Homo sapiens: one gene and its partner. The protein of the gene in region 1 purifies or fractionates together with the protein of each later gene. This does not show direct contact. Each region holds a gene or a part of one and is shown in the gene's direction. Other genes may lie near its edges.

Evidence for each region. The genes of interacting proteins can lie anywhere in the genome.
Region 2: the proteins of SCG2 (region 1) and DCAF6 purify together in Homo sapiens (affinity purification with mass spectrometry; one large-scale study listed by BioGRID and IntAct). This does not show direct contact.

Annotation. Positions count from the first base shown.
Region 1 is NC_000002.12:223,596,404-223,599,627, reverse strand, and holds the end of SCG2 (secretogranin-2 precursor), read left to right. Parts: intron 1-331; 5' UTR 332-345; coding exon 346-2,199; 3' UTR 2,200-2,688; downstream 2,689-3,224. UniProt on the Homo sapiens protein: Neuroendocrine protein of the granin family that regulates the biogenesis of secretory granules.
Region 2 is NC_000001.11:168,005,977-168,009,778, forward strand, and holds part of DCAF6 (DDB1- and CUL4-associated factor 6), read left to right. Parts: intron 1-3,802. UniProt on the Homo sapiens protein: Ligand-dependent coactivator of nuclear receptors. Enhance transcriptional activity of the nuclear receptors NR3C1 and AR. May function as a substrate receptor for CUL4-DDB1 E3 ubiquitin-protein ligase complex.

The DNA of each region.
Region 1 (3,224 bases):
AACAACATGTACTAAACATCAAACTACAAGTTCTGTAAATGAAAAAATAAAATTTAAGAAATCTCATATCAGTGTTTTTGCTGTTGTTTTAACTAAGAGAATGCTATGCAAGTTTTTGGTGAATGAGTAATAATTTTGCTAAAGATTCCTGTGGTTTGCTTGTGGGAATCATGTGGAAAATATTCATGAATTTTTAAAAAGAGTTATCCTAAGCTTAATGTGAAATAATATCTACTATGTTTTTTCCTCACCTCAATGATCAATTATTTCTTTTGCTATAGTGTCTTCTAGTTTGTTTCATTTGTGTAACTCATATTTTTTATGTTTTAAGGAAATCTTTCAAACATGGCTGAAGCAAAGACCCACTGGCTTGGAGCAGCCCTGTCTCTTATCCCTTTAATTTTCCTCATCTCTGGGGCTGAAGCAGCTTCATTTCAGAGAAACCAGCTGCTTCAGAAAGAACCAGACCTCAGGTTGGAAAATGTCCAAAAGTTTCCCAGTCCTGAAATGATCAGGGCTTTGGAGTACATAGAAAACCTCCGACAACAAGCTCATAAGGAAGAAAGCAGCCCAGATTATAATCCCTACCAAGGTGTCTCTGTCCCCCTTCAGCAAAAAGAAAATGGCGATGAAAGCCACTTGCCCGAGAGGGATTCACTGAGTGAAGAAGACTGGATGAGAATAATACTCGAAGCTTTGAGACAGGCTGAAAATGAGCCTCAGTCTGCACCAAAAGAAAATAAGCCCTATGCCTTGAATTCAGAAAAGAACTTTCCAATGGACATGAGTGATGATTATGAGACACAGCAGTGGCCAGAAAGAAAGCTTAAGCACATGCAATTCCCTCCTATGTATGAAGAGAATTCCAGGGATAACCCCTTTAAACGCACAAATGAAATAGTGGAGGAACAATATACTCCTCAAAGCCTTGCTACATTGGAATCTGTCTTCCAAGAGCTGGGGAAACTGACAGGACCAAACAACCAGAAACGTGAGAGGATGGATGAGGAGCAAAAACTTTATACGGATGATGAAGATGATATCTACAAGGCTAATAACATTGCCTATGAAGATGTGGTCGGGGGAGAAGACTGGAACCCAGTAGAGGAGAAAATAGAGAGTCAAACCCAGGAAGAGGTGAGAGACAGCAAAGAGAATATAGAAAAAAATGAACAAATCAACGATGAGATGAAACGCTCAGGGCAGCTTGGCATCCAGGAAGAAGATCTTCGGAAAGAGAGTAAAGACCAACTCTCAGATGATGTCTCCAAAGTAATTGCCTATTTGAAAAGGTTAGTAAATGCTGCAGGAAGTGGGAGGTTACAGAATGGGCAAAATGGGGAAAGGGCCACCAGGCTTTTTGAGAAACCTCTTGATTCTCAGTCTATTTATCAGCTGATTGAAATCTCAAGGAATTTACAGATACCCCCAGAAGACTTAATTGAGATGCTCAAAACTGGGGAGAAGCCGAATGGATCAGTGGAACCGGAGCGGGAGCTTGACCTTCCTGTTGACCTAGATGACATCTCAGAGGCTGACTTAGACCATCCAGACCTGTTCCAAAATAGGATGCTCTCCAAGAGTGGCTACCCTAAAACACCTGGTCGTGCTGGGACTGAGGCCCTACCAGACGGGCTCAGTGTTGAGGATATTTTAAATCTTTTAGGGATGGAGAGTGCAGCAAATCAGAAAACGTCGTATTTTCCCAATCCATATAACCAGGAGAAAGTTCTGCCAAGGCTCCCTTATGGTGCTGGAAGATCTAGATCGAACCAGCTTCCCAAAGCTGCCTGGATTCCACATGTTGAAAACAGACAGATGGCATATGAAAACCTGAACGACAAGGATCAAGAATTAGGTGAGTACTTGGCCAGGATGCTAGTTAAATACCCTGAGATCATTAATTCAAACCAAGTGAAGCGAGTTCCTGGTCAAGGCTCATCTGAAGATGACCTGCAGGAAGAGGAACAAATTGAGCAGGCCATCAAAGAGCATTTGAATCAAGGCAGCTCTCAGGAGACTGACAAGCTGGCCCCGGTGAGCAAAAGGTTCCCTGTGGGGCCCCCGAAGAATGATGATACCCCAAATAGGCAGTACTGGGATGAAGATCTGTTAATGAAAGTGCTGGAATACCTCAACCAAGAAAAGGCAGAAAAGGGAAGGGAGCATATTGCTAAGAGAGCAATGGAAAATATGTAAGCTGCTTTCATTAATTACCCTACTTTCATTCCTCCCACCCCAAGCAAATCCCAACATTTCTCTTCAGTGTGTTGACTTCTATCCTGTTAACACTGTAATATCTTTAAATGATGTACAGGCAGATGAAACCAGGTCACTGGGGAGTCTGCTTCATTTCCTCTGAGCTGTTATCTTGTGTATGGATATGTGTAAATGTTATGACTCCTTGATAAAAAATTTATTATGTCCATTATTCAAGAAAGATATCTATGACTGTGTTTAATAGTATATCTAATGGCTGTGGCATTGTTGATGCTCACATATGATAAAAAAGTGTCCTATAATTCTATTGAAAGTTTTTAATATTTATTGAATTATTTTGTTACTGTCTGTAGTGTTTTGTGGAGTACTGGACCAAAAAAATAAAGCATTATAAATATATAGTTTTATTTATAAGGCCTTTTCTATTGTGTGTTTTACTGTTGATTAATAAATGTTATTTCTGGACAACTTTGGACTCTTAATTATGGAAAACCAGAGACAATGTCTACGAAGCAAGCAGTATGAAGCCAAAAGAGAAAATCATCTTCACCAGACAATTCAGGTAAGAAGTAATGAATTTTATACATGTGTTCATGGTACCTGCTTGCAGAATGCTGCATCCTTATGCTTGCCCATGGTTTTCCTTATGCTTGCCCATGGTTTTCCTCAAATATATAATCGATAGAGTCTTTGTTTTAGGTATTTTTTACTCTTGATTTATATAAGTAAAAGAAATTTAAGTCTCCAATACCCATAGGCAGCCATCAAAACAAAAACAGAAAGAAAAAGAAAAGGCTGCATAGATGGCAATCAAAAATGACTACAGACTTGAAAGGAACTTGTCTATTCCCAGGTCATGTTGGTCCCCAAAAGACAAGGCTGTTGCCTCCCTTATGTGACTTGAGAGGGGCCAAAGGACCCCCAAACTGACCATTAGGTAAGTGAAGAAGCACAGTAGCAGTGGGAACAACCAGCCCCATCTTCTGCCCTAGTGGGCAAAGAAG
Region 2 (3,802 bases), on another chromosome or scaffold:
AAAAGTTTGTTTTTCAAAGCAGGTAAAATTGGGAAAAGCAAGAATTTTTAAAGTGATATTCTTGAACATATTGATCAATTATAAGTTTTTAGGAAAACTTAGCAAGAAGACTCTAGCTTACATTCAGCTTCCACTGAATCTCAACTAATTCTAGTTGTTTCTTAAATATATTTATGAGTAAAGTATTTGGAACTTTATTTTTTAAAGCTATCTAATGCATTTTAATTACTGCATTTCAAATTGCTAAATTCCTTTCAATATTTAATGTAAGTATTAAATGTGACAATCATTTGAATTATTGAAGAAGAAAAAATATCTTTGGTGGTCATGTGATGATTATTGAAACATTATGCAGTACTTTTACTCATAAATTATTTATAGGAAGTAAGGAAATATTTTTAACTGGGAGATTATTGAGAGAATTTTGGTTGACTAAGCTATAGATAATTAGAATATTTCCATGTTATCAAGACATTATCACTATTGAGAAAAATGATTTGGTGTTAGATGTAACATCTGAAGGTTATGACTGTAGTTGTTCTGATAACAGCTTTTTCATTATTCTGGAGTTCAACGTTTCAGGAGTAAGGACTTAATTTGTTTCTGTTTTTGTTTTTTGTCCAATCTCTTTTGCATTTGCCATAGCCTAAGTCCAAATGTGTTTGTGAATATTGGGAATTGTCCATTGGGTGAATGTAGTAGATGGAAATGTCAGCTTAGGACCATGATTTCTATTATTTCCCTGCATAGAGATAGAGAAAATGATAAAGTATACTTCTGTCTATGCTTGCCTTGCTGTGGATACCTTTTTATGTAAATGTTTATCCCTTTACATGTCCTCCCTCATTTTTACTGATATCAAAGAAACGGACAATGGGAATATGAAAATTTGCTACGCTCCATCTCTGGTTGAACCTAATTGTCTGCCTTCTCTTAGTCTACAGTGGAATCACTGAATGATAATGAAGAAAGTTATGACCACAAATTTCAATGGGTGCTCAACACTGTGCATCAGAGCAGCCTCACACTGTTGCTCTCCAGCTGTACAAAATGACTATTTTACACTTTCATGTCTCTCAAACTTTAATACTTCCCTTCATCCCCGCCCCACTTCCAGATTCTAACCTTTCATTCACAATGAAAAGTACTCGTTTTCCTACTGTCAATAATTTCCCAGCTTTCCAACATCTGTACTCACATTGTGATAGAAGCAGAAAGCTCCTATCAAAAGCTAGTCAATGTAGTTGCTATCCCTTTCCAGCTTCTCAAAGATTTCGCCCCTTCTCTTGCATTATCATTGCCTTTTTTTGCCAAATTGTTTCTTTTGGCCTTAACATGCTCTTATTATCTCCTTTCTTTAAAAATTTTCTCTTAATTATCTCACATTCCCCTTCAGCTATTGCCTTATTTCTCTGCTGCTTTCGTAATGAGAATCCTCAGAAGAGTTGTTGATAGATGCTCTCTCCATTTTCTTGCCATCCTTCATTTATTTATTAACCAACCCCCATCTGCTTTTCAACCCCCTTTTCCTCTGAAACTTTTAATCAAAGTCACTAGTGACATTCACCAGTTTAAAGGATATTTCTCTGTTAGTACCTTACTAGATTTTTCGACCCGGTTGCATTTAACATAGGCTGTCACTCCTTCTTGAAACACTTTCCTTTCTTGGTATCTATGATATCATATTTGCCTATTTACTCTTATTAATTCTGGTGGGTTTTCAGTAACTGTTGTTCGTGTTTCTTGTTCTATCTCCTTCTGAATATTATAATCAAACCCCTTAGTTTGGGCTCTCTTCTCTTCTCTTTACATACACTCTTTCTCTGGGTGATTGTGTCAGTTCCTCATAGCTTTTAATATCTCCTGTAAATTCATGACTCACAAATATATATATCAGCAATCTGATCTTCTACCCTGAATTCCAGACCCTTATGCCTGATGTCTGACTGCTATTTTGACAGTATGTTTTTGTTATTGTTGTACATCTTTTTTTTTTTTTTTTTTTTTTTTTTTAAAGACAGTCTCACTCTGTCACCCAGGCTGGAGTGCAGTGCACAATCTCAGGTCACTGCAGCCTCCCCCTCCTGGGTTCAAGCAATTCTCCTGCCTCAGCCTCCCAAGTAGCTGGGATTACAGGTTCCTGCCACCACACCCAGCAAATTTTTGTATTTTTAGTAGAGATGGGGTTCCCCATGTTGGTCAGGCTGGTCTTGAACTCCTAACCTCAAGCAGTCCATCCGCCTCGGCCTCCCAAAATGCTGGGATTACAGGCATGAGCCACTGCACCCGGCCTATTGTTGTACGTCATAAATCTACATGTTCAAACTAAAACTTAATGCAGCCTCCTACCCTTCCTGTTCCGTAATTGGCTCCTTCTTGGTCCATTTGCTTATTTGAATAACCTGTGAGTTTTTCTTGATTCCTTCCTTTTCCTCAAGTCCCATGCCAGCTCATCAGCAAGTTCTTTTGTTCCTGTATCTAAACTATAACCTGGGTCTTTTCATCTCACCATCATTTCTTGTCTCCTAATTAATCTGCCTGTACCTACTGTTGTTCCATTATAATGTATTCTCCATGCAGGAGCCAGAATGAGTATTTTAACATGTTAAATCAGATTATATAACTTTGCTGTTTAAATCCCTTCAGAAGTTCCTAATTGCATTTGGAAATACAACTACAAAAGAAAAAAAAATCAAACTCCTCACTGTGGACGTATAAGAATTTATATGGCCTGCCCTTCCCTGTCTCTCTAGCCTCATCTCATTCAATTTTCTCAGTACTTGATGATTGTTACACTCTAGATGTACTACTGATTTCTTTCGGTTATCAGAGAATTTCCGTGCCAAATTCTGCCCTGCCCTGCCCTGCCCTCCCCCGCCCCACCCCGCCTCCACCCTGCCCCCACCCCCTCCCCTCCCCCCTCCCTCCCTCCCTTCCTCCCACTTGCTTGCTTTCTCTCTCTCTCTTTCTCTCTCTCTTTTCTTTCTTTTCTTCCTTCTTTTCTTTTCTCCTTCCTTCCTTTCTTTCTTTTTCTTCTTTTTAGACAGAGTCTTGCACTGTTGCCCAGGCTGGAGTGCAGTGGCGTGATCTCGGCTCACTGCAAGCTCTGCCTCCTGGGTTCACGCCATTCTCCTGCCTCAGCCTCCCAAGTAGCTGGGACTACAGGCGCCTGCCACCATGCCCGGCTAATTTTTTATACTTTTAGTAGAGACAGGGTTTCACCGTGTTGGCCACGATGGTCTCAATCTCCTGACCTTGTGATCCGCCCTCCTCGGCCTCCCAAAGTGCTGGGATTACAGGCGTGAGCCACTGTGCCCTGCCATTTTCTTTTCTTTCTCTTCTCTTCTCTTCTTCTTTCCTTCCTTCCTCCCTTCCTTCCTTCCTTCCTTCCTTCCTTCCTTCCTTCCTTCCTTTCTTTCTTTCTTTCTCTCTCTCTCTTTTGTTTCTTTCTGTCTCTCTCTCTTTCTTTCTTTCTGTCTCTCTCTCTTCCTTCCTCCCTCCCTCCCTTCCTTCACTTCTTCCCTCCCTTCCTTCCTTCCTTCTTTCCTCCATCCCTTCTTTCCTTCTCCTCTTTCTCCTTTTTCTCCTTTCCCATCTTTCTCTCTTTCCTGTCTTTTCTTTTCTTTCCCTCTTTCCTTCTTACACTTTGTTCTTAGTGTTATTCTCTGTATGCTTGGGAAGCCCTTGTCCTGGCTTATCACTTGGCCAACTTCCTTTTCCTTGAGTCTCAGCTCAAATGCCATATAAGACAAGTCTTTCATAACTACCCTAGGTAAAGTCCTCTTTCCTTTTTCTTCTTGCT